Regions from separate parts of the Homo sapiens genome. Here all the other regions are reported to be linked to region 6. The links are microRNA targets in miRTarBase. Many come from high-throughput screens and were not tested one by one. Region 6 holds a microRNA gene; each other region holds the end of a gene's coding sequence.
Evidence for each region. Region 6 holds the annotated microRNA hsa-miR-302e (UAAGUGCUUCCAUGCUU, at 2,559-2,575, opposite strand). A microRNA usually pairs through its seed, bases 2 to 8, with sites in the 3' UTR of a target mRNA and lowers its output. Matches are read on the target gene's strand: a 7mer-m8 pairs with bases 2 to 8, a 7mer-A1 pairs with bases 2 to 7 and ends in A, and an 8mer does both.

Region 1: miRTarBase lists ZNF578 as a target of hsa-miR-302e. Seed matches in the 3' UTR shown: 7mer-m8 at 2,132-2,138 and 7mer-m8 at 2,427-2,433.
Region 2: miRTarBase lists VAMP3 as a target of hsa-miR-302e. Seed matches in the 3' UTR shown: 7mer-A1 at 2,407-2,413.
Region 3: miRTarBase lists RABGAP1L as a target of hsa-miR-302e. Seed matches in the 3' UTR shown: 7mer-m8 at 1,475-1,481.
Region 4: miRTarBase lists HAS2 as a target of hsa-miR-302e. The part of its 3' UTR that is shown has no 7-base or 8-base seed match.
Region 5: the mRNA of SUCO is a reported target of hsa-miR-302e. Seed matches in the 3' UTR shown: 7mer-m8 at 1,578-1,584.
Region 7: the mRNA of SNX5 is a reported target of hsa-miR-302e. Seed matches in the 3' UTR shown: 7mer-A1 at 3,561-3,567.

What each region holds. Positions count from the first base shown.
Region 1 is chr19:52,511,350-52,515,418 of GRCh38, forward strand. ZNF578 (zinc finger protein 578) reads left to right here. Exons shown (of 6, transcript NM_001099694.2): 6 at 1-4,069. The coding sequence ends at 805. Among named protein-coding and RNA genes, the nearest start is that of ZNF808, 14 kb to the right of the region's middle.
Region 2 is chr1:7,778,969-7,783,029 of GRCh38, forward strand. VAMP3 (vesicle associated membrane protein 3) reads left to right here. Exons shown (of 5, transcript NM_004781.4): 5 at 658-2,464. The coding sequence ends at 677. Among named protein-coding and RNA genes, the nearest start is that of PER3, 3.3 kb to the right of the region's middle.
Region 3 is chr1:174,989,601-174,993,669 of GRCh38, reverse strand. It overlaps RABGAP1L (RAB GTPase activating protein 1 like), which reads right to left. Exons shown (of 26, transcript NM_001366446.1): 26 at 1-3,821. The coding sequence ends at 3,669. Among named protein-coding and RNA genes, the nearest start is that of CACYBP, 8.3 kb to the left of the region's middle.
Region 4 is chr8:121,610,403-121,614,471 of GRCh38, forward strand. HAS2 (hyaluronan synthase 2) reads right to left here. Exons shown (of 4, transcript NM_005328.3): 4 at 1,714-4,069. The coding sequence ends at 3,707. Among named protein-coding and RNA genes, the nearest start is that of HAS2, 29 kb to the right of the region's middle.
Region 5 is chr1:172,609,903-172,613,971 of GRCh38, forward strand. It overlaps SUCO (SUN domain containing ossification factor), which reads left to right. Exons shown (of 24, transcript NM_014283.5): 24 at 1-1,931. The coding sequence ends at 357. It also overlaps the pseudogene RNU6-693P. Among named protein-coding and RNA genes, the nearest start is that of FASLG, 47 kb to the right of the region's middle.
Region 6 is chr11:7,233,277-7,237,345 of GRCh38, reverse strand. It overlaps MIR302E (microRNA 302e), which reads right to left and starts at 2,580; the gene lies at 2,509-2,580.
Region 7 is chr20:17,938,735-17,942,792 of GRCh38, forward strand. SNX5 (sorting nexin 5) reads right to left here. Exons shown (of 13, transcript NM_014426.4): 13 at 2,866-3,673. The coding sequence ends at 3,623. Among named protein-coding and RNA genes, the nearest start is that of SNORD17, 22 kb to the right of the region's middle. RefSeq lists enhancers at 1-571, 204-333, 1,574-1,663, 1,694-1,783, 1,759-2,350.

The DNA of each region.
Region 1 (4,069 bases), not on the chromosome of region 6:
CTTCAGTTACAAGTCATCCCTTACATGCCATCATAGGTGTCACACTGGTGAGAAACCTTACAAGTGTAATGAATGTGGAAAGTCCTTCAGTTACAAGTCATCCCTTAGATGCCATCGTAGACTTCATACTGGAATAAAACCTTACAAGTGTAATGAGTGTGGCAAGATGTTTGGTCAAAATTCAACCCTTGTAATTCATAAGGCAATTCATACTGGAGAGAAACCTTACAAGTGTAATGAATGTGGCAAGGCTTTTAATCAACAATCACACCTTTCACGTCATCATAGACTTCATACTGGAGAGAAACCTTACAAGTGTAATGACTGTGGTAAGGCTTTTATTCATCAGTCAAGCCTTGCACGTCATCATAGACTTCATACTGGAGAGAAATCTTACAAATGTGAAGAATGTGACAGAGTTTTCAGTCAGAAATCAAACCTTGAGAGACACAAGATAATTCATACTGGAGAGAAACCTTACAAGTGTAATGAGTGTCACAAGACCTTCAGTCACAGGTCATCTCTTCCATGCCATCGTAGACTTCATAGTGGTGAGAAACCTTACAAGTGTAATGAATGTGGGAAGACTTTTAATGTACAGTCACACCTTTCACGTCATCATAGACTTCATACTGGAGAGAAACCTTACAAATGTAAGGTTTGTGACAAGGCTTTCATGTGCCATTCTTATCTGGCAAACCATACTAGAATTCATAGCGGAGAGAAACCTTACAAGTGTAATGAGTGTGGTAAGGCTCACAATCACTTGATTGATTCATCAATCAAGCCTTGCATGTCATCATAGACTTCATACTGGAGAGAAACCTTACAAATGTGAAGCATGTGACAAAGTTTTCAGTCACAGATCACGCCTTAAAAGACATAGGAGAATTCATACTGGAGAGAAACCTTACAAGTGTAATGAGTGTGGCAAAGCCTTTAGTGACCAGTCAACACTTACCATCAGGCCATTCATGGTGTAGGGAAACTTGACTAATGTAATGATTGTCACAAAGTCTTCAGTAACGCTACAACGATTGCAAATCATTGGAGAATCCATAATGAAGAGAGATCTTCCGAGTGTAATAAATGTGGCAAATTTTTCAGACATCGTTCATACCTTGCAGTTCATCAGTGAACTCATACTGGAGAGAAACCTTACAAATGTCATGACTGTGGCAAGGTCTTCAGTCAAGCTTCATCCTATGCAAAACATAGGAGAATTCATGCAGGAGAGAAATGTCACAAGTGTGATGAGTGTTGCAAAGCCTTTACTTCATGTTCACACCTCATTAGACATCAGAGAATCCCTACTGGAGAGAAATCTTACAAATGTCATCAGTGTGGCAAGGTCTTCAGTCCGAGGTCACTCCTTGCAGAACATCAGAAAATTCATTTTTGAGATAACTGTTCCCAATGCAGTGAGTATAGCAAACCATCAAGCATTAATTGACATTGGAGTCAATTCAGCATTGACTTGAGTTTGTGTTGACTTAACATTGAGTTCAAGCCTTAATTGACATGCAGGTGTTTATGATAAGAGGATTGGGCCAGGTGCAGTGGATCACGCCTGTAATCCCAGCACATTGGGAGGCCAAGGCACATAGGTCACTTGAGGTCAAGAGTTTGAAACAAGCATGGCCAAGAGATGTGAGCCAGTTTTCCCAGCCTGTTTATTATTATTTTTTGAGATGGAGTGTTGCTCTTGCTGCCCAGGCTAGAGTGCAATGGTGCGATCTTGACTCACAGCAACCTCCGCCTCCTGGGTTCAAGCGATTCCTCTGCCTCAGCCTCCCTAGTTGCTGGGATTACAGGTATATGCCACGACGCCTGGCTAATTTTTTGTATTTTTAGTAGGGAAAGGGTTTCTCCATGTTGGTCAGGCTGGTCTCAAACTCCCGATCTCAGGTGATCCGCCCACCTCAGCCTCCCAAAGTGATGAGATTACAGGCATATGCCACCGCGCCTGGCATTGTTTCTTCTTTTCCTTTTTTTTTTTTTTTTTTTTTTTTGAGATAGTACTTTTTAAAGAGATAGTACTTTTTTGAGATAGTACTTTTTTAAAGGGATATACCATAGTAGTTTTAAAAGGGATATCAGGCTGGGTGTGGCAGCTCACGCCGGTAATCCCAGCACTTTGGGAGGCCAAGGCAGGCAGATAACAAAGTCAGGAGATTGAGACCGTCCTGGCTAACACGGTGAAACCTCGTCTCTACTAAAAATACAAAAACTTAGCCGGGCATGGTGGTGGGCACCTGTAGTCTCAGCTACTCAGGGGGCTGAGGCTGGACAATGGTGTGAACCCAGGAGGCGGTGCTTGCAGGGAGCCGAGATCGTGCCACTGCACTCCAGGCTGGGCGACAGAGTGAGAGTCTGTCTCAAAAAAAAAAAAAAAAAGATATCAAACCCGGGGTGTCTCATCCCACAGCACTTTGGAAGACTGAAGTGAGTGGATCATCTAAGATCAGAGTTCAAGAGCACCCTGGCTAACATGGTGAAACCCCATCTCTACTAAAAATACAAAAGTTAGCCAGGGGTGGGGGTGTGCACCTTTAGTTCCAGCTACTTGGGACACTGAGGCATGAGAATCACTTAAACCTGGGAGGTAGAGGTTACAGCGAATCAAAACCGTGCCACTGTACTGCAGCGAGGTTGGCAGAGTGAGTCTCCATCTCAAACAAACAAATGAAAAAAACAGACATCAAAAATGCTTTTGTTCTCGTTGTGTCATAGACTTCCCTTTTTTTTCCTTCTGGTTCCTCTTCAGTTCTCTATTTATTTTTTCTTTTTTGCAGATTGAGTTTGAGATATATCTTAGTTTTAATAGTTTTATTTCTTAACACATAATGACTTCTGAAAGATGCCTTTGCAGCATCCTGTAATCAGCTCACATCATTCGTTTCTGTACTTGTATATTTTCCAGTTGTTTTCCGGTTGACCCCAAAATTCGTGAGATTTTTTTCCTACAACAATTTCAAAAGAGTTGCTGTTTGAAATTAGTTGCATCCAGTTCAGATCGAGGTCTGCATGCTTTCTAGTCTTTGTTATTTATTGGAAGGCTGTGGTACCTACTACTTAAGTTTGATTGTTGCAGTGTGTACTTGGTAAAGATGTCAGTGACCTTTTAAATAAACATCAAAATGTAGTTTAAGCAGTTAGTCTGTTTTTCAGTTTTCTTTCCTTATGTCATTTTTTAAAATCTTGAGCTGGGAGCTATTTATTGTGTGTTTCCCTCAAGGCCCTGTGGTCCATTCTGGAAAAATGTTGAAACATGGGCTGGAGTGGCATAGAGCGCTGCTCCAAAAGCACCCATGTATTCTTTTCTTTTTTGGAAATGGAGTCTCGCTCTGTCAGCTTGGATGGAGTGCAGTGGTGCGATCTCAGCTCACTGCAACCTCTACCTCCTTGGATCAAGTGATGCTCCTGCCTCAGTCTCCTGAGGAGCTGGAATTACAGGCACCCACCAGCACACCCAGCTAGTTTTTGTATTTTTAGTAGAGACAGGGTTTCACCATGTTTGTCAGGCTGGTCTCAAACTCCTGACCTCGCGATCCACCCGACTCAGCCTCCCACTGTGATGGGATTACAGGCATGAGCTACCACGTCGAGACTCTTTTTTTTTTTTTTTTTTAGATGGAGTTTTGCTTTTGTTGCTGAGGCTGGAGTGCAATGGTGCGATCTGGTGTCACTCCAATGTCTTCCTCCTGGGTTCAAGTGATTTCTCCTGCCTCATCCTACTGAGTAGTTGGGATTACAGGTGCCCTCCACCACTCCCGGCTCATTTTTTGCATTTTTAGTAGAGACAGGGTTTCATCATGTTGGCAGGCTGGTCTTGAACTCCTGACTTCAGGTGATCTGCCCACCTCGACCTCCCAAAATGCTAGGATTACAAGCGTGAGCCATTGTGCCTGACCACTCATGTATTCTTGATTGAAATAATTTGCTTATTTCTTAGTTCTACAGCTGACCCTCTTTCACTGTTTCCAAGGTCAATAGCTGTGTGTTCACACTTCTGCATTTTATAAATGTTCCTGTGAGTTTTTTGTAAGGAAGAATTAACTGTCAGGAA
Region 2 (4,061 bases), not on the chromosome of region 6:
GCAGATCACGAGGTCAGGAGATCAAGACCATCCTGGCTAACACGGTGAAACCCCGTCTCTACTAAAAATACAAAAAATTAGCCGGGTGTGGTCGCGGGCGCCTGTAGTCCCAGCTACTGGGGAGGCTGAGGCAGGAGAATGGCATGAACCCGGGAGGCGGAGCTTGCAGTGAGCCAAGATCATGCCACTGCACTCCAGCCTAGGTGACAGAGCAAGTCTCCGTCTCAAAAAAATAAATAAATAAAATAAATAAAAATTGCTTAGGTTGGTGCCTGGCATATAATAATAAAAATAATAGCTATATAAATAATATATATGTATACACAAACACACACACAACTATTATTATATAATATTCAAACAACTCACTGCCATCGGTAGCCCAGTATATGAGAACCGAAACATGACTTCTTTCATTGATAGATGGATGTTAGTGGATGTTTCCTTTTAGCAGGAAGGTACAGTTACTTGGATCCTTTTGACTCTAGTCTCCTTCCTCTAGCCCTCTATAGAATGGAGAGAAGCCAGTAGTAGGAAATCAGCCCAGTCTAATTTCTGATCACATTTAGACTGCAGCATTGGATGTTGGCTTGGGATTCACACTGAGAGACTAACCTGCTGTTTCCCCTGCCTTTTTGCATCTCTCCTCCTTCTTAGTGTGGGTTGTCTCTTCATGAAGAACCAGCGGAACTCAAAACTGCTGTTCAAGAAACCTCTTCAAGACTTTTGACTTAGAACCTGCTATATTATCAAGCTTACCTACTGTTATCTCTAAAATTTTTTTTGTGTTAATGTAAAGTTGAATTTCTAGGAAACGTGCCTTTGTTTTTTAATATGCACTCCAAATTAGAAGGCCGGCCCCGTCCACATTTTGCACAGTGCCTTTACAGATTTACGTATGGGCTGATGAAGAGGCCTTCTTAAGTTCCAGAGTGCTATAATCTAGATGTAATGTTGTCACTAATTAATTGCCATTACTCCCAGTTAGTTACCCTTGTCATTTGGCATTATTTTCAGAACCACATTTTAAACCTTTGGGTAATCAGATTTCCAACTTATGCCTTCCAGAAAAAAACACTACTGCCTAACACAAATCTGTGATAACAACAGGCTGTGCCTTATTTTGATAATTTTCTGATTCCCTAGAAGAGAACCCTCTACTTTTTGTAAGCACTACTGACTCTCGCTGTATTTAAGATGCTGGTGAAGAGCTTTTGCTCTTGCATTAGATTTGAAGATGTTTACATTGTTGTTATTGTTATGTATCACTTGCTAAAAATATTGTTTTAATCAGAGATAACCTCTTTAAAAAAATTTTTAAAGAACTATGGCTATGACCAAAGCTTCTATTTTGCCAAAAAGTTAAATACCGATAAAATGGCCTTAAGTGTATTCCTGACAGTTAAATTCAGAAACGTGCCAAATGGAACTCAAGGTGCCCCTTCAGAATTAAAATCATTACCTTGTGTGTGAACCTTCTACATCTTCATAGGCCTTTCTTCCTTTTGAAAGGCTGTAGACAGTGTGGCTCCCCTTCTGATTCAGTATTTTGCATGGGGGTTAGAGAAGGTTTGAGGTAGACTCTGACCGTCTCATAAAAGAGTTCTACCCAGCAGTTGGCAGATTATCAGCTGTGGACTCCAGCATGTTTCTGATAATTATGCAAGCAACAATTCTGTAGCCTCAAGTAAGACCACCTGTGAACTTGATCATTATCTGGCCCAAATATGAAGATAAACTATAACTTTGGAGTTTGTTTCCTATTTGTATTCACATTCTGCTTCCTAAATCAGTTTTCTAAATTATGCCTGCAATTAGGCATTGGTCAGGGGTGAATGGCTCTTTTCACAGAGAGTAGCCAACCAGAGACCTTTGCTTTGATATCATCAACTGCAGAGAATGCTGTTGATGGGAATGCTGGAAGCAGAAACTTTGTCATCGGAAAAACTTTTCTTGTATGCATGAGACTCAACATCAGGATCCACAGCTTAAAGATGGGAATTCAGGTATGAAAGAAAACAGGCAAGGAGGCACTGAGGGAGAAAGACACAGACTTTATCGCTCTGTGGCTCATTGTTACTGGAATATTCTAAAACTCTTGTTCACATGCTATTATGACTTATAAAGCAGCAACAGCTGAGGCGCACCAGGACACAGCTTCCATTTCTTTAACGTCTGTTCCCTTAACATCGCTGAAATGATTTACTGTTGAAGAGATGCCTTGCGGTGTGGCCAGCTGTGAGGAGAAAGCAGCTGGCAGTGTTAGGACATTAGTCCACCTTCAGCGCAGGGTCTCTGGCCGGGTCTGACTCAGAAACCTTGGTACTCGCCCCTTGGCCACAGTGCCCAGACCCATGTAACCCACTGGCTCCTGCATTAACCCAGAAATACCTCGCTTCTATCTGTGCACTTAGCTGGGAACTTACCCACTGTAATCACCTAAATAAAGTGTTTATAAACATGATTGTGGCACCTGTGCTCCTTGTAGAGGAATAGCTGCACCTGGTCCGAGTCCTAAAAATGCCATTCCTTGCTGCTCCCCATACCTGTCCCTTAGAAGCCCCGAAACTGTCTCCCCCTTTTCTCACCAGCCCCTCTCTAGGTACTCTACCCTTTTGGTACCCAGCATTTCCGCATACCCCAGTGAACAGAAGAAAACCGCTCCCCTTGTGAAAAGTGCTTTTTAGTATAGGCGATGAGGAGGAAACTGGCTTTTACACAATTACCAAAATTCAGGATGTGGCTTTGGAGTTCCCTAAATAGATGGTCTTTCTAAAGTGATGTGCAGAGCCGACCCCGTCTGTGGTAGACTAGATGGCTGCTGGCATGGACCCTGGGATAGATGAGTGGATAGGTGAGGGACATCCCCAGACACATGGCTCTGTTCCTGTAGATCCTTTTTTCCTCATGAATGTATTTCCATTCTTATCGTAGAACCCCTAGGAAACAATATAATACGGGTGGAAGAGGACTTTTGCTTATGTTTACAATAGGAAAATCCAAGTCCCTTTCCCGAATTACAGGTCCCACGATGATCTGGTCCTTTCTAGTTTTCTGACTTCATGTCACACGACTCTCCAGCTCTCTCTTCTCCAAGCAAGGTACTCCACCAAAGTATAGCTGTTGACATCGGAGAGACTTGTGCCCATGAGACTTTCAACATCAGGGTGTGGCTTGAAGGCCAGAGTTAGCTATGAATGAAAACAGGCAAGGAAGCCCTGAGGGAGAAATGGACCTGATAAAGTTTGTTTCGGTTTCTCATCAGCAAACTGACTTCTTTCCAAAGGTCTTCTGCAGGTACTTTCAGCTCTGCCGGGTCTACTTCCTCACCCGCGGCAGGCGCCTCTCATCTCAGGTTGAAATCCGCCTTCCCCACTCGCGGCAGGCGCCTCTCATCTCAGGTTGAAATCCGCCTTCCCAGAGGCCTGCCCTGCTGATCTGACTAAGCAGGCTCTGGCCTCCCCACTCCACCTTTCTCCCAGTTACTCTTCCTTCCAGTAGTTTGTTTTCTACACATCGCTTTAGGCTTTATGAACTTGTTTATGGGGTTGTTTGTATGGCTTTCTCAATAAAACGTCAACTCCCTGGGTGGCAGGGACTTTGGGCCACTGTTCTATCCGCTGGGATTCCAAGCGTCCCTACCCAGATCTGCACGCAATAAATGCTTGCTGAACGAATGCAGTTTGACAAAACCCAGCTTCGGAGGAGAGCAAGCCAACCTAGAGTATCGCTTGGAAGATATAAGGTGGTTTATTCAATACCTAACATGAACACTCACCTCACTTTTCCCCTCTTCCTTTACATACAATTTCATCCATCCAACAAATACTGAATATTTTTTCTGTACCAGGCAGCGAAGAGGGGCGGCACTCTGCACTGTACCTTTCATTTCTAACATGTTGAGATACTAAACTGAGCTTTCAGACATTTTTTTTAAAGGGCTCTACAACTTCTTTTCTGAAACAGAGTGTCTTTTACGTTTGTCTTCCTCCAGTTGCCAAATGAATCTAATTTTAGGAAGTGCAGGGAAGTGTTTTAAGTTCCACCGTCAAAATTCTGTT
Region 3 (4,069 bases), not on the chromosome of region 6:
AAGGTTGGTGGGAGAGTTAGTAGACAGATTTTAGTGAAAGTATGAAGACTTAAACCCCTACATCAGTTACACATGTGATTCTCCTGGGTGACTGGCTCACTCCTTTAAAGATGTAACTCTATCTCCTCTGCCCAAATCTGTATTGTTTTCCGTTGGTTTTCTCACTTCAGCTAGGAAATAAAGCAACTAGTTATTAACTGGAAAATATTTTAAGAAAATGGAGCAGGGGTTGGAGAAAAATAAATATTAATACATCATAGGAAAAAAATGAAACAAGATACATACTATTAAATATCCCCACATCCATACAAAGGTTGCTTTTCTACTTTACTCAGGACATTTCAGAAAGCCAATGAAGAAGTACTAATTTAACAGCTGGGAGAGGGGCAGAAGACACTGGTTGAATGGCATTCCTATTAGTGTTCCTGATAGGCACTCATAAATAAACAGAACATTAAGTAACAGAATTTCTTTGCATTAAATTATATGTAACTAAATAAAACCAAATTTTGACATGGTTCAGGATGTGGGAAGCTAGCAAACATATGCACTGCAAAATCCAGCTTGGTTTCTTTCAGATTTAAAGACGTGTTTAGATTCTCAAGATACAAAAGCTGATGAACTGAATTATGAAGTTGAATTTCATTCATTTAATTTTTTCCACAGAATTTAATGAAAATAGAAATGATCAATTCTTAGATACTGCAAATATTAGATTTTCAGAGGAATGTTTTGTACAGAGTGCATCCTAGCAAAGGATGAAAAACACTAGAATGTTTTGAAACTTTCCTGGATATTTGGCTGGTTAATCTCTTCTAAGTGAAATTCAAGAGAAGAGATGCAATTCTCAAATATATCTCAAAATAACTAAAATTAAAACTAGGAGTTACTTCATGCTGGGATGCATGAGTTTTCCAACAATAGACAGTGAAGGACATATTGTTTGGAATATTGCTATTATAACATATTGTATGAACAATCATATCACATACCAAATTCTGAATTTTCTTTGTTTCTAGTCTTTACTATTGCTACTGACTCAAAGGCATTGCAGTGAAGGAGAGTTTAGGCTTATGGTACCAACAGGCATACCCAAGTATGATATGGGGCTGGAGAATAAAAAAAAAAAAAATATGTATTGCCCTCGTAATCTTTTGAAAGAGCTAAAAGAAAACTCAAAAGATGGACTTATCAAACTTGAGAGGTATGTACCTGGTGATTTTTCGAGACGGAATTTTGCTCTTGTCGCCCAGGCTGGATGGAATGTAATGCCGTAATCTTGGCCCACTGCAACCTCTGCCTCCTGGGTTCAAGTGATTCTCCTGCCTCAACCTCCCGAGTAGCTGGGATTACAGGCACCCGCCACCAAGCCCGGCTAATTTTTGTATTTTGCAGTAGAGATAGGGTTTCACCATGTTGGCCAGGCTGGTCTCAAACTCCTGACCTTAGGTGATCCACCCACCTCAGCCTCCCAAAGTGCTGGGATTACAGATGTGAGCCACCATGCCTGGCCAGGGGGGATTTTTCTCTTCTCCTCTTTAAAAGGAAAGGGACTATGAAGTTGAACAAGGTCTTTAGATAAGGGATTGACCTAGAGCCATTATGTTTCTCCCTCACCTACTATTATTTAAAGAAAATTACACACTTTAGGCATTCTGTGGAATGTACTTATTTTTGTAAATTGAAACAAGCTCTGTACAGAACTATGAAATTCACAACACAAAAGAGCATCTTTAATTTAGCTGGCCATTTGATAAGGCAACTGCACAAGGCTTCTTGGAATCAAAGCGTAAAGTACCAGTAAAGCTAACAGCCTATACTAAATGATTTACAAAAACAAGCGCCAAGATAACATTTTCTAGCTATTACATTTTACAAAAAAAAAAAAAAAAAAATTAGCTTATCTAGACCACCATGTAGAGAATGTTAAAGCCAACACAGACACTTGGAATGCTGGGTTATGTTCCTTTTTGTTAAGAAAATAAATTTTGTAATGAAAGATGTCAGAACAACAATGAAAGATTTATGTAAGAAAAGTATTATCTGATGAGTATAACATAACAATCACATCAGTTTTATGGGCTGTAGAGAATATAAACACAGATAAAGGGGATTTCACTTTTTAGAACATAAAAGATCATTTTAGAGGAAAAGATCCACTGTGAGCAACTTGGTGCATCCTCCTGGGATGTAGATGGCTCTTATTTGATTCTTCTAAGGGTGTGTTACTTTTAATTGCAAAATATGGCACAGATGAGAATCATTCTGGCACTACAGAGTTTAAGATTCTTTGCAAATAATATGTTCAACAATGAGGCCAATGATTAATATCAACAAATGTTATTGTACATATCTAATAGTAGTTTGGTTGGTTTGAAAGGATCAGAGGCCTCCAAAATAGTTTATAAAATAAAAATAGTTTTGCTCTTATCAAATAATTTCCTGCAAGGACTATTTTTATAGGCATGTTAAATATAATTGAAAAAATATTTCCACTAATTTTTAAACAATAGCTTTACCTTTCCATGAGATAAGTATTTCTGTAAAGGTTTTATATTCAATCAAAAATGTTACAAATGCATTTGTATCTCTTTATGGGTACGAAGGACACATTTTCAGGGAACTACAGAAATCAGAAAAAGTTGCCCAGCATTAAACTAAGATGATGTGAGCCTGACCTCTATTTCCCATTTCAATACTATGTCCTTTAACAAAGTTACAGTATTGTTAGTGTTTCCTTAGCAAGTATATATCAACGTTAAATGAAATACTCTGTCCCTGGTTCTATATTCCACTCTATTCAGCACAATGGCTGAACCTGGGGCTTTTTAGGCGTCTCTGGTAAAGGCTCCCTAAGTCTGTAAGGTGCAATATCCACCTTTAACTTTATAATTGCCAGAAGTCACATCTGTGTCCATACTTTGGTGTACTTAGGAACTCACAAGTCCTATGTGGCATTCTTAAAAGGATCTGTTAGAATACCACAGCCCAAATGATCCTGACCTACACTTATTAAAATTTCAGTTCCTTTTACCTAGCGTATAATCTGAACAGCCCGTCTATTCCTGGCACTTCATTTCCAGATGTACCGAACAGAAAATGAAAGTAAACCAATGATCGCTGATTGGTTCTTTCCTTTGGACAGGATTAACACTTCCCTGGGAATCAGGCTCAGGAGGAAACCTGAGAGTGGTCATGCCTGGCCCCACAGTGTGCTTTATCTGAATAAATCCTGAAAACTTAAGATGTTTAGGTTTCAATTTTTTTTTTCCTGTGACAAAGATCTTCTTATCACTTCAACCTTGGAATAACAGATGTCTCCATTTTTATGTAAGATAAAAATAATTATGAATAATTCTAAATAAAAAAGCATTTAGTTCTGAATTACTTATTTCCAACTAAACATCAGGCAAACAAAATAATGTGTAATACTATGATGGATCTGAACATGGCCTTCCAGAAGCTGGAAAATAGGTATTCAACATAGAACAGGTCAGTTTAAATAGCATCCCTTTGAAAAGTGTCATACAAGAAAGAGTGAGAGCTACTGAAAAATTCTGGCTTGTTTTCTGGCCTCCTTGACTTTCCTTCAAAGGGACACCAGGAAGAATCCTCCCAGATTTCCATTGGTTTGAACATTGTGCTCTTGTGCTTGGGTAAGGCTGGAACTATGTGCTCTCCTTGGGTGGCTGGGTGACCGGTGCTGGCTGCAATGGCTGGGTGCCCGTGGCCGTTTTGATAGAGTTCAGGGTTTTGCTAAACCAAGAGTTTTTCGCAGCTTGGATTTCATTCATAAGGGCTCCTCTCTGATGTTCAAGTTCCTAATTAAAGCAAGAAAATCATCTGAGTTAAATAAATGTTTTCTCTTTGCCAATAAATAAATAAAAGTGTGCAGCTTTTTGGAGTCTCAAGGTATGTGCTGCCAATTTTCCTCCCACAAAACCCAGGAGAGATTGAATTGGCTTCTTAGTACAAGGATAAAGTTAAGAGCTAAAAGACTTATCAAAAATCTAGAATCTGTGCTTTCTTTAAACAGTGAAAGAAAAGCTCATTTTATTCTTTTTTTCCC
Region 4 (4,069 bases), not on the chromosome of region 6:
AACTTGCATTTCTAATAAATTCCCACATGCTGCTGATGCTGCCGGACAGTGGATGAAATACTGAGTAGCATTAGTTGAAGGGGCAAGCTTGATGTCATAATGTCTGGACCTAAATTCCACCACTACAATGTACTGGCTTTATAATATTAAGTTACCAAATTTCTTTAAACTTCACTCAGCTTCCTCGCTTAAAATGGTAATAATAATGGAACTTCTTGGGACTGACATAATAACTAATCTATAAAGCATGCTTCTGGTAGTGCCTAAAACATAGTATGTGCTCAAAAATTAGGTGTCAGTGTGAGTACTTAATGGTACAGATAAGTCCACAGATTTCTAAAGAGCAGGGGTCATTAACTATGGGCTGCAGGATATATCTGGCTTGTTGCCTGTTTTGGTAATGCTGGTGAATTAAGAATAGTTTTGTGGGGGTTTTTTTTGTTTTGTTTTGTTTTGTTTTGTTTTTGAGATAAGTTCTCATTCTTGTTGCCGAGACTGCAGTGCAGTACTGCAAACACAGCTCACTGTAGCCTCCTCGACCTCTGGGGCTAAAGCAATCCTCCCACTTCAGCCTTCTGAGTAGCTGGGACCACAGGCAACGCCCACACCTGGCTAATTAAAAAAAAAAATTGTTTGTAGAGACTGGGTCCTGCCATGTTGCCCAGGCTAGTCTCAAAATCCTGGCCTCAAGCAATCCTCCCACACTGCTGGAGTTACAGGCGTGTGTTACCATGCCCAGTCCTAAAATGTATACTTTAAGGCTCTTTACATTAAAAGACTGTCACCAAGTGACTTCATCAGTGAATTATTAAGTTTAGAACCATCAATATTTCTGGATTATCTGACAATAATGTTCAGTGGCTATAGTTTATAATGTAGCAGTACAAAAGTAATGAAGGATTCTTAGAAAACAGATAACACAAAAGAACTGGGAAATAAGATGAATTTGAGGGATAAGAGGTAAAATGAGATAATTACTATCAAAGTTCCTCTAATCAGAAAATGCTGTTAGATGTCCCAACCCACTTTTTAAAAAGATGATATTTATTGTCTTTTTTTTCCTGATTATAAAAACATATTTATAGTATTTGGAAAATACAAAAACATATACAGAATATAAATCAGTCATTCCCAGTATTAGAGATAATCATGTTTAAACATCTTCACTTTTATAAAATTGGGATGTTACTGTACAAAATGGTTATTTTTTTAATGTGACATTTCTCCAAAATCCACGTGTTCTCTGAGAACATTGTGTTCAATAGCTAATGATGTCCCATTTTTTAGAAATGCCATGATTTATTTAATTATTGCCCTCATCATTTGATTTTAGGTTAAGGTTTTATTATTTCTGAATAATGCTGAAATAAACAAGCTTGCTTATCATATTTCTGCATATCTTTGATTTTTTTTCCTGCTATAAGTTACTATAATTTAAAAAATTGTCTAAATTTGTGCTGCTTTCAAGGGAAGCAGAAGAAAAAGATTATAGACAAGGGTAATGATAATTAAGCAGTCTCTCTCCTCTCTCTGTGGTTTTCCAGATTTTCAAACCACACCAGTTTTAGGGATTTCTACCTAATAATAAGTAACATTAAATGACATATTCTTTTTTACCAACCATCATTTTTTTTAAAACCCCCCCTTCCTAAATTCATACCATTATAATCAGGAAAACAAAGTTCCCCCTTCCCTTAGAAAAAAAGGCAATAATCTTATCAAAAATATTTTATTTACAAAAAATTAATTATACTATACATCCTATACTGGAAATACATTGAATAATTGCTAAAATAAATACAGGCAATTAATTCAACTTTTTATAAGAATGAGAGAATTTGACATTTGAATGTTATCAAAGCTTAACTTAGAACATAAATAGTTAAAAAGGCAAACTCAAGTTTTCATCTCATTTATTGGCATGGTGTGTTTTGTTTTCCACAAGCTCTCCAATCAGTGAGAGTCTTGAGTCTCAGATGTACCTTTTTGTACTCTGAAGGTAGGATGTGCAGCTTTTTCTTAGGCAGGATAGATGTAACATAGATGACTGCATAAAAAAGAGGCAGAAAGGCAGGAAGCCCATTTTTTTTTTAACACTTCTCCATGTGTCTCTGCCTCACCATAATGCTGTTTATTCAATTATTCATATATTCCGATTGTGTTTTCAACACAGGTCTACACAGCACCAGCTACAAGGCAAGGTCAATCGTGTAAAAAATAAAACTGGATAATGGAGGCCTTGCAGTAACTAAATTAGCCAAGTTCAGAGTATGTGGTTCAACAATTTTTATATGTGCCAATCATTGATATACTTATTAAACCTTGATGTCACTTCTACTGTGTAGACATTTTTATACAGGTCCAGAACAGGAAATAGGAAGTGATGATCTGTGTAATTCAGAAAAACAAAATTCCTCATTTGAAAGTAAAAGAGGATAGATACTTGGTGATTCTATCTGCCAATTTTGAATTTATATGTTTTATAATTTATCCAACTCACCCGTGTAAACATTATACTAACATGTAAAGTGAACTGGCAAGTTGAAAAAAAAAAAAAAGACAGGCAAAACATGTTCAATGTGTAGGTAGGACCCAGTAAATTCAGGCCACAGAACAAAACCTTTGATAAACTGCATTGTATGTGTCCAAAATTATACAGATAATTTCTCCACTTTCCACTTGACTTGTTCTGGGAAAACACTGCCAGAATCTCCAAAGATTATTCATCTTTGATACCCATGTTTTGTCCAGTGCTGGATGCCTACTGTTTTCTTTCAAAGACTATCATTCCCTTTTTTTTAAATCTTAATGAAAAAATTGCACTACCTTTGGCCTTGATTTTCAACGATTTTTTTTTTAGGTACACACGAAAGTGTGTATTTTTACTTCCAAAGTGTGATAGGTATATTGGCCTTTTCTAAAAGAAATAAAAACAAAAAGTTAAAATATTGAAAGTTTAAATACTTCTTTCACAGAAATAAACTATTCAATTTTAAAAGGTAGAGAGAGAGAAACATTTTATTCTTTCTATCATGAACATCAGTCAACCAAGCTTCACATTTTGGGCAGGATTTTTTAAGTATAAATTTTTTAAGAACTTATTTTATTTTAAAAAAGGAAGAACAGGTTTATTTTGGCAGAAAAGTAAAATAGAGAATATGCAAAATTTGTCTTTAAGATTGGCATACAAAATTTAAAAACACAGTACAATTATATCAAAATACAGCACAGCCAACGGCCTTTAAAACTTCCTTTGGCATTTCATTTGGTAAAGTTAAAAAGAAAATCCTTCCTAAAAAAAAAAAATTATCATCTATCAAAACAGTCCATAAGTTAGGTTGTATAGGTTGAAAGAACTTTTCCTTGAGTTTCCAAAATCCTTTTCTTCCATGATAACCCACATAAAGCATGGCTAGTGAGGTATATAGGGCAAAACACTTTCAGGCGGATGCACAGTAAGGAAAAAGTGCATAAACAAAGAATTCATCCCATTTTCATAGAAATAACAGGTTAAATCTGAGTTTCTTCTTGTTGATGTATTGTTTTACTTTGGCAGAATGAAAATAAACCCATATAAATGTCTTTGTTCAAGTCCCAGCAGCAGTGATATGTCTCCTTTGGTGGCATTATCTGATGCCACAATACTGTACAGCCCCTAGAGGAACTAAGGTGTTGTGTGTGACTGCAAACGTCAAAACATGGAAGATCATACATCAAGCACCATGTCATATTGTTGTCCCTTCTTCCGCCTGCCACACTTATTGATGAGAACTACATACAGCGTCAAAAGCATGACCCAATAGCATGCATAGAGCAACGTTCCAACAATTAGAACTGTCTGTTTGGATTCTGAAAATGGCCTTTTAGACTCCTTATAAATGGTGAAAATCACACCACCCAGGAGGATTGTAAACCAAACTGATACTGGAATGAGTCCTATGAAATTAACAACAATGGTTTTCCTTCCTGATGTGCCCCACCCAGCTTTGTTTATTGTTGCAATTGCAAACATCTTGGCGGGAAGTAAACTCGACATGTATAACACTGAGTAGAGAGACATGAAGACCAT
Region 5 (4,069 bases), not on the chromosome of region 6:
GGAAGAAAGCCCTTTACGAACCAGAGAGATTTTTCTAATATGGGAGAAGTTTATCACTCTTCTTATAAAGGTCCTCCATCTGAAGGAAGCTCAGAAACTTCATCACAGTCAGAAGAGTCCTATTTTTGTGGCATTTCAGCTTGCACAAGTCTGTGCAATGGACAGTCTCAAAAGACAAAAACTGAGAAGAGGGCTTTAAAACGAAGACGATCTAAAGTCCAAGACCAAGGAAAATTGATAAAAACTCTAATACAGACTAAGTCGGGATCATTGCCGAGCCTGCATGACATAATCAAAGGAAACAAAGAGATCACCGTGGGAACATTTGGTGTTACAGCAGTCTCGGGACATATCTAAAATTAATTGAACTTTTCATACAGAAGACTTTTTTGTTGTTGTTCTTTGAAGAACAGTCTGTAGTATTTGAAGGGTTTGGGGGAGGGAGAAAATATTAATGGGAAAGGCATTCAGAAATTATGGTTTCTACCTTTTTAAAAAGTAGATGGGATTGTGTCAATCTTGGTTAATGAGCTACAGTTTTACAAAGCTGATCACTTCCTATAAGGACAATGGTAGACATTTTATAAAGATGTTTTTTCACAAGATTAATTACTGGGACAAAAGTAATTTGGAAGCCCAGTTCCTTAGGTGGGATAGGAATGAAAGCCTAAACCTCTTCCTTTAGCTTTGTTCCTATTTCTTGCACCTTCCCATATTTATGTGCCTTTTGTCTATTTATAATGCCACTGGAAGAGGAGGGATAACTTTTTCTGTTATTTGATTTCTTTTATAACTTTGTTAGGTTTTTGAAGCTGCAAACACTACAATGCTTTGAGGGGGTCTGTGCCTGAAGCTCAGGAGTGTGGATCAGACAGTCTAAAGATCCTAAAAACTTGCCAACTGGATCTTTGTTTAGCAAACTCACTGGAAATGAACACTTAATGGAATTTTTAAGTCTGTTCTGTTAGGTAGATGGTGATGCTCTTGTTATTTTCACTTATTCAGACTGGATTACTTCTTACTTAGTTACTAACTCAATGAGGAAAAATCCCTACAGGATCTTTTTTTGCAAACAACTGATATATGCAGACAAATTTTTGACAAATTCACCTTTTAAACACACTTAACCATTTGTGAAGGTTTTCTTTAGCTTACATTTTAAACATACACAATAAACACTAATCCTCCAAACTTTCACTGTTTTTATTAGTATGAATATAAAATTTGAAGGTTTGGCCAATTAGTACAAGTCTCATGATATAATCACTGCCTGCATACATATGCACAGATCCAGTTAGTGAGTTTGTCAAGCTTAATCTAATTGGTTAAGTCTAAAGAGATTATTATTCCTTGATGTTTGCTTTGTATTGGCTACAAATGTGCAGAGGTAATACATATGTGATGTCGATGTCTCTGTCTTTTTTTTTGTCTTTAAAAAATAATTGGCAGCAACTGTATTTGAATAAAATGATTTCTTAGTATGATTGTACAGTAATGAATGAAAGTGGAACATGTTTCTTTTTGAAAGGGAGAGAATTGACCATTTATTGTTGTGATGTTTAAGTTATAACTTATTGAGCACTTTTAGTAGTGATAACTGTTTTTAAACTTGCCTAATACCTTTCTTGGGTATTGTTTGTAATGTGACTTATTTAACGCCTTTTTTGTTTGTTTAAGTTGCTGCTTTAGGTTAACAGCGTGTTTTAGAAGATTTAAATTTCTTTCCTGTCTGCACAATTAGCTATTCAGAGCAAGAGGGCCTGATTTTATAGAAGCCCCTTGAAAAGAGGTCCAGATGAGAGCAGAGATACAGTGAGAAATTATGTGATCTGTGTGTTGTGGGAAGAGAATTTTCAATATGTAACTACGGAGCTGTAGTGCCATTAGAAACTGTGAATTTCCAAATAAATCTGAACACTTGTCTTTATTAATTACTGGCTCTTCTGTCTTTTAAAAGAGAACTCAGAAATTATTAATCTTTGAACAGAGATTTAAGTTTTTGCCACTTTTAAAGTTAAATATAGCAGCATTCCATTCAATATTGATCACATTTCAGCCAACTACAAAATGATGGTACTTTTACATAAACATTTTGCTCCCTATGCTATCAGAATTTCAGTTTTTCATATCTAAATACAGCATAACATTTTGTAACATGAGGTTTATTTTTTCCTCTCTCACATAACTACATGAGAAAAAAAACTTAAGTGAAAATAATAGATTTATGCCTATTAAGAAGCAAAAACTATATAGATATTTATCCAATGGGATTTTTAGTGTTCCCTGATGATCAACCTCATTTTATTTCTTCTAATGTTAAGTAAAGCATTAAAACAGTATGAAATAAAAGGAAACTAGGGAATTGGTAAGAACAAGGATGCAAAGTAAAACAATTCTTTTAATTGAATTTTTAAAAACATTAAAGTTGTGGCTCACGCCTATAATCCTAACACTTTGGGAGGCCGAGGCAGGGGATCATTTGAGGAGTTCGAGACCAGCCTGACCAACATGGTGAAAACCCGTCTCTAATAAAAATTAAAAAAAAGTAGCCGGGCATGGTAGCACATGCCTGTAGTCCCAGCTACTCAGGAGGCTGAGGCAGGAGAATTGCTTGAACCTGGGAGGCAGACAGGTTGCAGTGAGCTGAGATTGCACCACTGCACTCCAGCCTGGGTGGCAGAGTGAGACTGTCTCAAAAAAAAAAAGTTATGCATACATATAATTTGATAAATTAGTTTTATAAGGCTTATAAAGTAAGAACAGAAAACAGTTCTCTATTCTGTACCATTTCACTCACACACAACGCACACACACACACACACACACACTACCAGTACCACCCATCTTTCTCTACCAAAGATTTCTTGCTTCCCAGTGGCAAACATTTTTTATTCCGTCTGCAGTTATTGTGCTTCCCTTACCTTGCTGCTTATTTTTCCATTTTTAGATGTGTCCTCAGTTTGAATATACAAACTTGTACGCATGAACATGAGATAGATATAAACTTATATTGGTTAATGTAATTGGATAAGTCTATTCAAAATCACACAACAGGACAACTTAGAAGTACTGCTTTTCTTCAACTGATTGATTTAAAAAATTTCAAATCTGTAGATAAGTTGAACACCATGTGCCTTTGCCCAGATTCACCAGTTGCTAATCTTTTTAGTTTTCTTCATGTGTATGTGTTTTATATGTATATGTGTATTATATGTATATATGTATGTATAAAGATATGTATGTGTGTTATGTGTATATATATAAAGAAACATCTTTTGGTGAGCCATTTGTAAGCAAGTTGGGACATTATGACCCTTTCCCCCTAAATACTGTAGCATATTTTTTCCTAAAGTAAGGACATTCACTTATGTGACCATAATACCCGTATAATATGTAAGAAAATTAATAACTCCATAATATCTAATACACAGTATATAGTCAAATTTCTTCAGTTACCCTCATTTGTTTATTTTGGTCCAGGGTCCATTCAAGGTTCATTTGGTTGTATTGTCTATTTAGTGTCTAAAAAAAATAGACTACTTCCTGACTTTGAATATTGTCCTTGTGCAAGGTCCATACTTACTTTCTCTGAATCATCCCAGTTTTAGTGGATGAGCTGCCCAAGTGAGCAGGAAGAGCTTTTTTGAGTAATGTGTTGATGTTGTCACTGAAATTTTATCCCAACCCACGAGTATTTATAGTTAACACATTCTTTAAAATATCCTGTTGGAGCAATAACCTCCGCATTACACTCCACTTAATCTATTACTTTAAAAATTAATATTTCAGGCTGGGTATGGTGGCTCACGCCTATAATCCCAGCATTTTGGGAGGCCGAGGCAGGTGGATCATTTGAGGTCAGGAGTTCGAGACCAGCCTTGCAAACATGGTGAAACCCCGTCTGTACTAAAAATAGAAAAATTAGCCAAGTGTGGTGGTGCACACCTGTAATTCCAGCTACTGGGGAGGCTGAGGTGGGAGAATCCCTTGAACCCAGGAGGCAGAGGTTGCAGTGAGCTGAGATCGCACCACTGCACTCCAGCCTGGGCGACAAGAACAAAACTCCATC
Region 6 (4,069 bases):
TATTTGTTTTTGTTTTTGTTTTTGCTTACTCCCATCCCCCATTCCCTCTGACAACTAGTATGTTCACTCCCTGAGGCTAGGGACCTTGTCTGCCATGTTCATCACCAAGAATCCAGCATCTAAGACAGTGCCTGACACATAGGAGGTGTCCAGTGAATAACTGTTAAATGAAAGAAGGTGGATAGTGAAGGGCAACACTCAGATCCAGATGGGATAGGGTACTCATGAGAGCATGGGTCAAGAGCTTAGCAAACATGTAAGAACCATGCTGCTCTTTTCTTTTCTCTGGGCATAAAGTAGTTGCTCAGTAATTCAGCCAAGCAAGTTTGTAGACAACAACTTGCCCAGTATTTGACAAAGAGCAGTTTTGTTTTGTTTTGTTTTTAAAAATGCTTGTCTGATGATTGAGTGACCTGGTGTAATTTCAAGAAAAACCCTTAGGAGAAATATATCAAAACCTTTCAATGATTTTGTCTGCAAACATGAAGATTCAAAAGCACCTGAGGAGCCTAACCTTTTCCTGCTGGCTGAAATGAAAATGCATTACCCTTTTATGTAAAATTATAAAGCAACTGAGTTTAAAATGGAGAAGAAGACAGAAGGGCTTAGAAACAGGTCTATAATTTTACGCCAAGTTTAAAATATCTTACCTCGAATTTGTATCCAAGATTTAGGTCTTTACTACCTGTGCTATCTGGTGTAATGAATGGCGACCTTGGCCAAGAGGAATTCCCTGGACTGTTGTCTTTGATCCTTTCCGATCACTTAAGGCTGATGAGTTGAGCACCTCCTGGCTAAATATGGCCTTATCAGTCACTGTGCGCTCCTTAAATGTATAAGGTCAGGTTCTTACCTGTGGGGCATCACATCCCTGAAGGAAGGACAGACAGGCAGATGCCTAGTTAAAGCACAGAGCCATGTAAAAGTTTTTTATAAAATTATAAAACAATGCAAAGGGATGGAGAGAGTAATTCTCTCTAGAAGAACTGGTCTATTATTTGATCATGTGGCCATAAGAAATTTACTTACTATGTCTGGATAGCAGTATTTCAATGGCAAAATAGCATGTTTGACAAGGCAGGACACTTTTTGGGCTCTAATAGTCTAACGTTGAAGTTAGATTAGCTGGTTTCATATGTATTAGTCTCATCTTCCCTACTAGACTATCATCGGGTAGGGATAATATCTCAATCATCTCTCTATCCCAGGGCCCAGAGGGCACTGCCTGTGACTGTAGTAGGCATCCATTGAGTGCACATTGATTGGTTGACTAAAATTCATCTTTCTATCTTACTCTAATATCTTAGAATCTAGTAGAATTCAGCACTCCAAATTGATAGGCTTCAAACAATGGAGTTTAAAGGTATATATAAATGCCTGCAGAGAGCTATTTCTAGCCTAATGCCTTATTTTTGTGAATCTTGATGAAGGGCTCGAAGAGGGCTCTGCACCTCAATTTTACTTTGACAGAAATCTATCTGAAAAGTTTCCTCTTCTGAACTGATCTAAGCCCCTCACCCCTCCATGATCCTCCCTGAGTCTTAACACCTTAGACCTGTGAACATTAATGTAAATGTGTATCTTGAAGGTGTGTCTACATGTGAGAATTTTGTGTGTGTATGCATGCAAGTTGTCTGAGTCTCTCTGAGTGTGTGCTTGTGTGTTTTCTCCATTGAGAGCAAGTTGTCTATGCCCTGCAGAATTCCCAGCCCAACCTCAGAAACCAAAAGCCTTCCTCCAAGTTACAGAGTTTACGCCAGAGAACAAACATGGATGGAGCTCATGTTTCTTGCTTGTCAGTCCTAGGTCTTCATTCCTTATTCCTGGAGGAAGGAATCTATTCATGAAGGTTTAGATGGAGATAACCATGGAAAAGCTACCAGTCTCAGTGTTGTTGGGTTTTGTTTTTGTTTTTGTTTTTGAGTATTAAAAGATAGCAAGCAAGTTTGACTTTTTCTACTGAATAGATGATGTTCTGTCTGTCAGAAAGACTGGTGCCTGGAAAGTTTTTTGCAGACACTTGCTTTAAGTTTATGACTTGCTTTGCTCCCACAGGAGCAAGAAAATGAACCATTTGTTTTTCAAAACACACACACACATAGAACTATAAAATAAAAATTGATGGCCGAATAAGCTGCCCCCCACCCAAGTTTAATTCATACCTGTCTGAGTGTCTGTACAATTTAAGCACTAAGGTATAAGTGGGTCCAAGTCTAGGCTTCCAGAGACTATCCCATGAATATTAATATTAGTCTGGGATTTCCAGCGAACACAAAGTAGCCCAATGTTACACCACTAACACCGTTTCTGGGTCAGGATGACTCCTGAGGCAAAAGAAACTTCTATGCACTGGAGAAGCTTCAGGTTCCTTTTCTTGCCCCCCATCACCCCCACCTTCCCCCAGCACTTGCTGTTTTATTACAGAATTAGTGGGAAGGAGACCATTTGTGGAGCTGTTGCTGTTCTAAGCACTTTACAAATAATAACTCATTGATTCCTCAAAATAATTCTATAAGGTAGGTGCTATTACTACATCCATCTTACCAGTAAGGAAACTGAAGCATGGAAGCACTTACCCAAGGTGAAACAGCCAATAATTAGGAGAGCCAGGTTTCAAACCCAGGCAGTCTGCCTAGAGACTCTATTAACTGTGAAACCACACTATCTGATGGACCAAACCTCTGTGGCAGGCAGATTCCAGAAATGGACTTGTAATGTCAATATTAAATAAAATCACAGTTTTAAATAGAACAAAACTTTGGCAATTATGTATTTTAAGATTAATTAATTTTAAGGATTATAACAAGGCAAATATAAAAATGGAAAACATTGAGAACTTGTTGTAACAGCCCATGGACTATGATTTTTTTAAATGTACTAATAAGAGCAAGGAAACTTCAACGATTTCTCTTCTTTTATCCTCTCATCTTGATATCTCTGGATACAATGCTCCACCATCTGTCCATATATGCCTCAGCTATGTTGAATCCCAGGAATGGAATTCCTTAAAAGCATACATAAAAAGACCTCTGTAGTCTGTTTTGTGTGGTTGGAGGGGAGAGTGACTCCTCTGTATCCTCTGGTAGGTGAAAGCCCTGGACCGCGTAGCATCCTTTGTTAGTGATTTTACTTGAAATCTACCTTCAGGAGCTCTTTTAGGGCAGGCCTGGTGGTGACAAAGAAGACATTTATGCAGCCAAAAAACACATGAAGAAATGCTCATCATCACTGGCCATCAGAGAAATGCAAATCAAAACCACTATGAGATATCATCTCACACCAGTTAGAATGGCAATCATTAAAAAGTCAGGAAACAACAGGTGCTGGAGAGGATGTGGAGAAATAGGAACACTTTTACACTGTTGGTGGGACTGTAAACTAGTTCAACCATTGTGGAAGTCAGTGTGGCGATTCCTCAGGGATCTAGAACTAGAAATACCATTTGACCCAGCCATCCCATTACTGGGTATATACCCAAAGGACTATAAATCATGCTGCTATAAAGACACATGCACACGTATGTTTATTGCGGCACTATTCACAATAGCAAAGACTTGGAACCAACCCAAATGTCCAACAATGATAGACTGGATTAAGAAAATGTGGCACATATACACCATGGAATACTATGCAGCCATAAAAAATGATGAGTTCATGTCCTTTGTAGGGACATGGATGAAATTGGAAACCATCACTCTCAGTAAACTATCGCAAGAACAAAAAACCAAACACCGCATATTCTCACGCATAGGTGGGAATTGAACAATGAGATCACATGGACACAGGAAGGGGAATATCACACTCTGGGGACTGTGGTGGGGTCGGGGGAGGGATAGCATTGGGAGATATACCTAATGTTAGATGACACGTTAGTGGGTGCAGCGCACCAGCATGGCACATGTATACATATGTAACTAACCTGCACAATGTGCACATGTACCCTAAAACTTAGAGTATAATAAAAAAAAAAAAATTTTTACAACTGCACAAATTTTGATAAAAATGAGTTAAAAAAAAAAAAAAAAAAAAAAGAAATCTACCAGACTTTTTAACCAATATTCCTATGTAA
Region 7 (4,058 bases), not on the chromosome of region 6:
CACTGTGGGCAGCTCACCCACGCAAGGGGCACCTTGTGTATGTGCGAGGAGTGGATGGGGAAGGGCGTCCCCTGGACCTTGCAGACCCAGCTGTGTCTAAAGGACATAACTGATCACTGCCCAAATGTTGTCCACCACCCCCAACTTCCTTCCAGACACATCACATGGCCTGGCTGTGAACCCCCATCAACATCACAACTGTTTTGACACCAGGCTCAGATGGGGAGTTCTCGAACAGCATGGCCTCAGCAATGGAGGTTGTGTCTTGGGTAACCAGAAACCTGAAGCCCGCAGGAATCCTGGAGGGGACTGCTGGTCTGGGAAAACACCATTCAGAACTACTTAACTCTCAAGTAGCCTGACATTTCTCTTCCTGCTACCTTAGCTATAAGCTGATAATCTGAGCAGCTCTGCGGGGATACCAGGCTCCTGCTCAGCTGTGGGTGGGCAGGTGGCTGTGCTGGGTCGCCCCTGCCGCCTACAGGCAGAAAGCGGATGGTGCAAGGTTTCCTTCCAAACGGAAATCGCCCTTCACAGAGCTGAGCCTGGGAATTACCACAAAGAAACCTCACAAAGAAAAGGTGCGCAAGGCAAATGTTCAGAAAACAGACCCCTAAACCCTGAGATGGCACAAGTGAATGTGTTGGGTGGTGAACTGGCCAAATGCTTGTGCTCTGTCACCACAAACGACCCCAGTGGTCTGACATGACCTCAACGGCTTCACAGACCAGGGGTGTGCTTTCCTTCCTCGTGACAATCTCCTAATTTTGCTTTTCAGAGTGGGGGAGGGCGGGGAGAGGGGAGGTGGATGGCAGTTGTCCCTGTTGTCTAGTCTGGAGTACAGTGGTGTGATTTTAACTTACTACAGCCTTGAACTCCTGGGCACAAGCAGTCCTCCCACCACCTCAGCCCTCCAGGTGTATGCCACCACTGTAGGTTAGCATTTTTTGTAGACACGGTTGCGCTGTTTCTCAGGCTGGATCCTAGCTTTTAATGAAATCGTATGACATGTGAACTGTGCAGTTTTGCGTGTGCCACGAGGCAACTTTCTCAGCCGTGCCTTGGGCAAGTCACAGCCTTTTTGGCCTGGATGCCTTAAGGCAGCCCATCTGAAACCACTTCCCATTCCCATTTCTAGAAACCTTCAAGGGTTCCCTATGAATTGTGCACCCACATGGGTTTTCCTGGAGGATCACTAGTTCTCAGAACCATACAAGCACACAGCAAAAGCCTCTCCACACATCACCCTGAAGTGACCCAAATTCCCATTTCTCAATGTGGGACCTATGCTCTCCTGCACTCCAGCAAGATAGCTGTGGATTCCCACCTGATGCTGTTCCTCCTGCTGCCAAGTGCCTGCCTGCCTTTCCAGGTCTCAGCACACCACACAGGTCGCAGTCAGCATCTAAACCCATCCCCCCACCCCAGACCACTATGAATGCACCCTCACATACAGGTAAAGGTAGCAACTCACTAGGTGACTGACAGAAGGGGAAAGGTGACTACATCCCTGACCCAGAGTGCCTCAAATTTCCTAAGTGACTGTCAGGTGCAATTTAATGAAAAGCCTTGGAACAAATACAGCAGGTAAAACATCTACAATCATACCATCCATGAAGGCTGTATTAGAGATTGCTGGCATAAAACTAATTTGAGGGGCCTCTGAAGTGCTGACTCCAGCTCACAGATCAGTCAGCTGAGAGAGGCAGCCTAGATCACTTGGTGAGCAGCAGACCCAGCACTCAAGATTCATGCCTCTGCTGTCCATTTGACAAGGTTTAGTCTCAAGAAAATGCACCAAGGCCCCGAGGCCAACAGCCAGAGCTCCACCAATCAGGGCTGATCACACTGGTGCTCAAGCACTGCGGCCCAGGAACCTGACTGCAGGAGTGCTGGCTCTACACTAACAGAATGCTGGGCGTGTGTGGGTGGCTGCTGTGGACATTATGGGGGAGATGGGTAGGAAGGACAGATTTGGTTAGGAGCCCAGACTGAAGTTACAACTGCCAAGTTTAAATTCACTCATTTTGTGCACCGTTTCCCAAGTATGTACTGTGAAGGTAGAAGGCACTGTGGCCGCCTGTAAATAGCTGGGGAGGCAAGACACGAAGACCAGATAAATGTTAAGAAACATGCTCCCTGTATGTATTGAAATCAGTTCTGCAACCCTCATACCAGTTGGCTGTAACAGATGCTAAATGTGGTGGGTAAAATGTTTTTAGTCTCATGGTCTTACCATGAATTACTTATTAGAAAGGTAAAGGAGATTACCACCCTAAGTGCTCAGTCATCAACAAAGGAATAGACACACAACTCCTGAAGACATGTCATTGGCACCAGGGAGTGGTTTCGTGGAAGACAATTTTTCCATGGACAAGGTGGGGTGTGGAAAGGGATGGCTTCCAGATGAAACCATTCCACATCAGATCATCAGGCATTTGATTCTCCTAAGGAGCGCACAACCTAGACCTGTTGCATGCCCAGTTCACAATACTGGGTTTGCACTCCTATGAGAATCTAATGCTGCTGCTAATCTGACAGGAGGCGAACCTCAGGCGGCAATGCTGGCTCACCTCTTCCTAACAAGCCATGGACCTGAGACTGGGGACCACTGCCCTATGGTAAAGGCCCTGGCCAAAATGCAAACCTCCATCAGGTCAGGAGCAAACAGACAAACCCACATTTAGAGACCATCTAAAAAAGGCCTGGAGTACTTAAGAATGTCAAGACTAGGACAAATTTCCCCTGACCGCCCCCAGGACTCTGGGCAGAACCTGAAAACCCTGTAACCACAGCCAAACCCTAGCACCACCTGCACTCCTGGGACACACTCTGGTTGTAGTTTCCACGAAAACAGGCCGTACATTAGTAGCACGATTATTTTATTATATGCTTTATAAAAAAACAAACACCCAAAGACATACAACACACCGCCCTCACCCCCCAGCGGCCATTAGGGAGGGGGCTTATACTTTTCCTAATGTAGATCTGGCCATCTTATAAAGCAGACCACATTATTTGTTTCCATATATACCTGTAGATATTTCTCTCCCCTCAAATATTTATATCTCGACTAAAAAAAGGAGGTGCAAAGAGTATATAAAGATAAATGAGATTTTCTTGCTGTTGTTATAGTACAAACACCAGATGACTACCAGTGGAGTAACAGGGCAAAACAAAAACACAAACCCCACCTTCAGTGAGGAATGGAAGGTCTGTTACCGACCTCAAGTAGCTGAATCACCTGCTGTAACTGGCACCTCCCTGACAATCATGGGTTTGTAGGGACATGGGCCAGGTGATGGCTTCTACTTGTTTCCAGAAGGCTAATGTGTCCTACACCCTTTCTTAGTAACTAAAGACGAACTACGGGAGAACCCAGTATTTGGATTCTGCCCAGAGGTATTAAATGCACAAGGAAAAATTAGTTATGTCCAAGTAGCAAGCAATAATATTTTTAAACCAACATGGTTAAATGTTAAGATTTGTAGAAATCAAAATATTTATTCACATAATTTTAAACTAAAGTTGAAGCTAATATATCTTCCGTGGTAATGATTTAAGTGCAAGTGATGCTTGGCTTTCTTTCACATTCATTTCTTTTCTTCTGAGTGAAGGCATATCAGTTATTCTTGAACAAGTCAATACAGCTCTGCAAAAGGGAGACATTGTTCTGTGGGGAAAAAAGGCAAGGCAGACCAGTGAATTATTAAAACTTGCCATATACCTGGAATGACTCAAGTACACCAACACGGCTTTTCACGGGAGGTTTAAAGTCAGCCAGAGCAAGCTGGCCCTTCTCTTCATCAAATCCCAGGTGAACTGCAACGTACCACGCATCCCCATTTCATGTTTCAGCTCCTCTCCCTCAGTGGGTAAGGCTACCAGCCAAAGAGCCGACGTTCACTCCAGCACCTCTGCCCTCACCTGCTTGCTCCTAAATGTGATCCTGCTTACTGTAACTTCTTAAGACACTATCAGTGCGTTGTTCCATGAAGGCAAGGGCCTTGGAAAGATTGAATAAAAGTTGCTAGAAATTAGGGCTGGGAGCTTTAGCT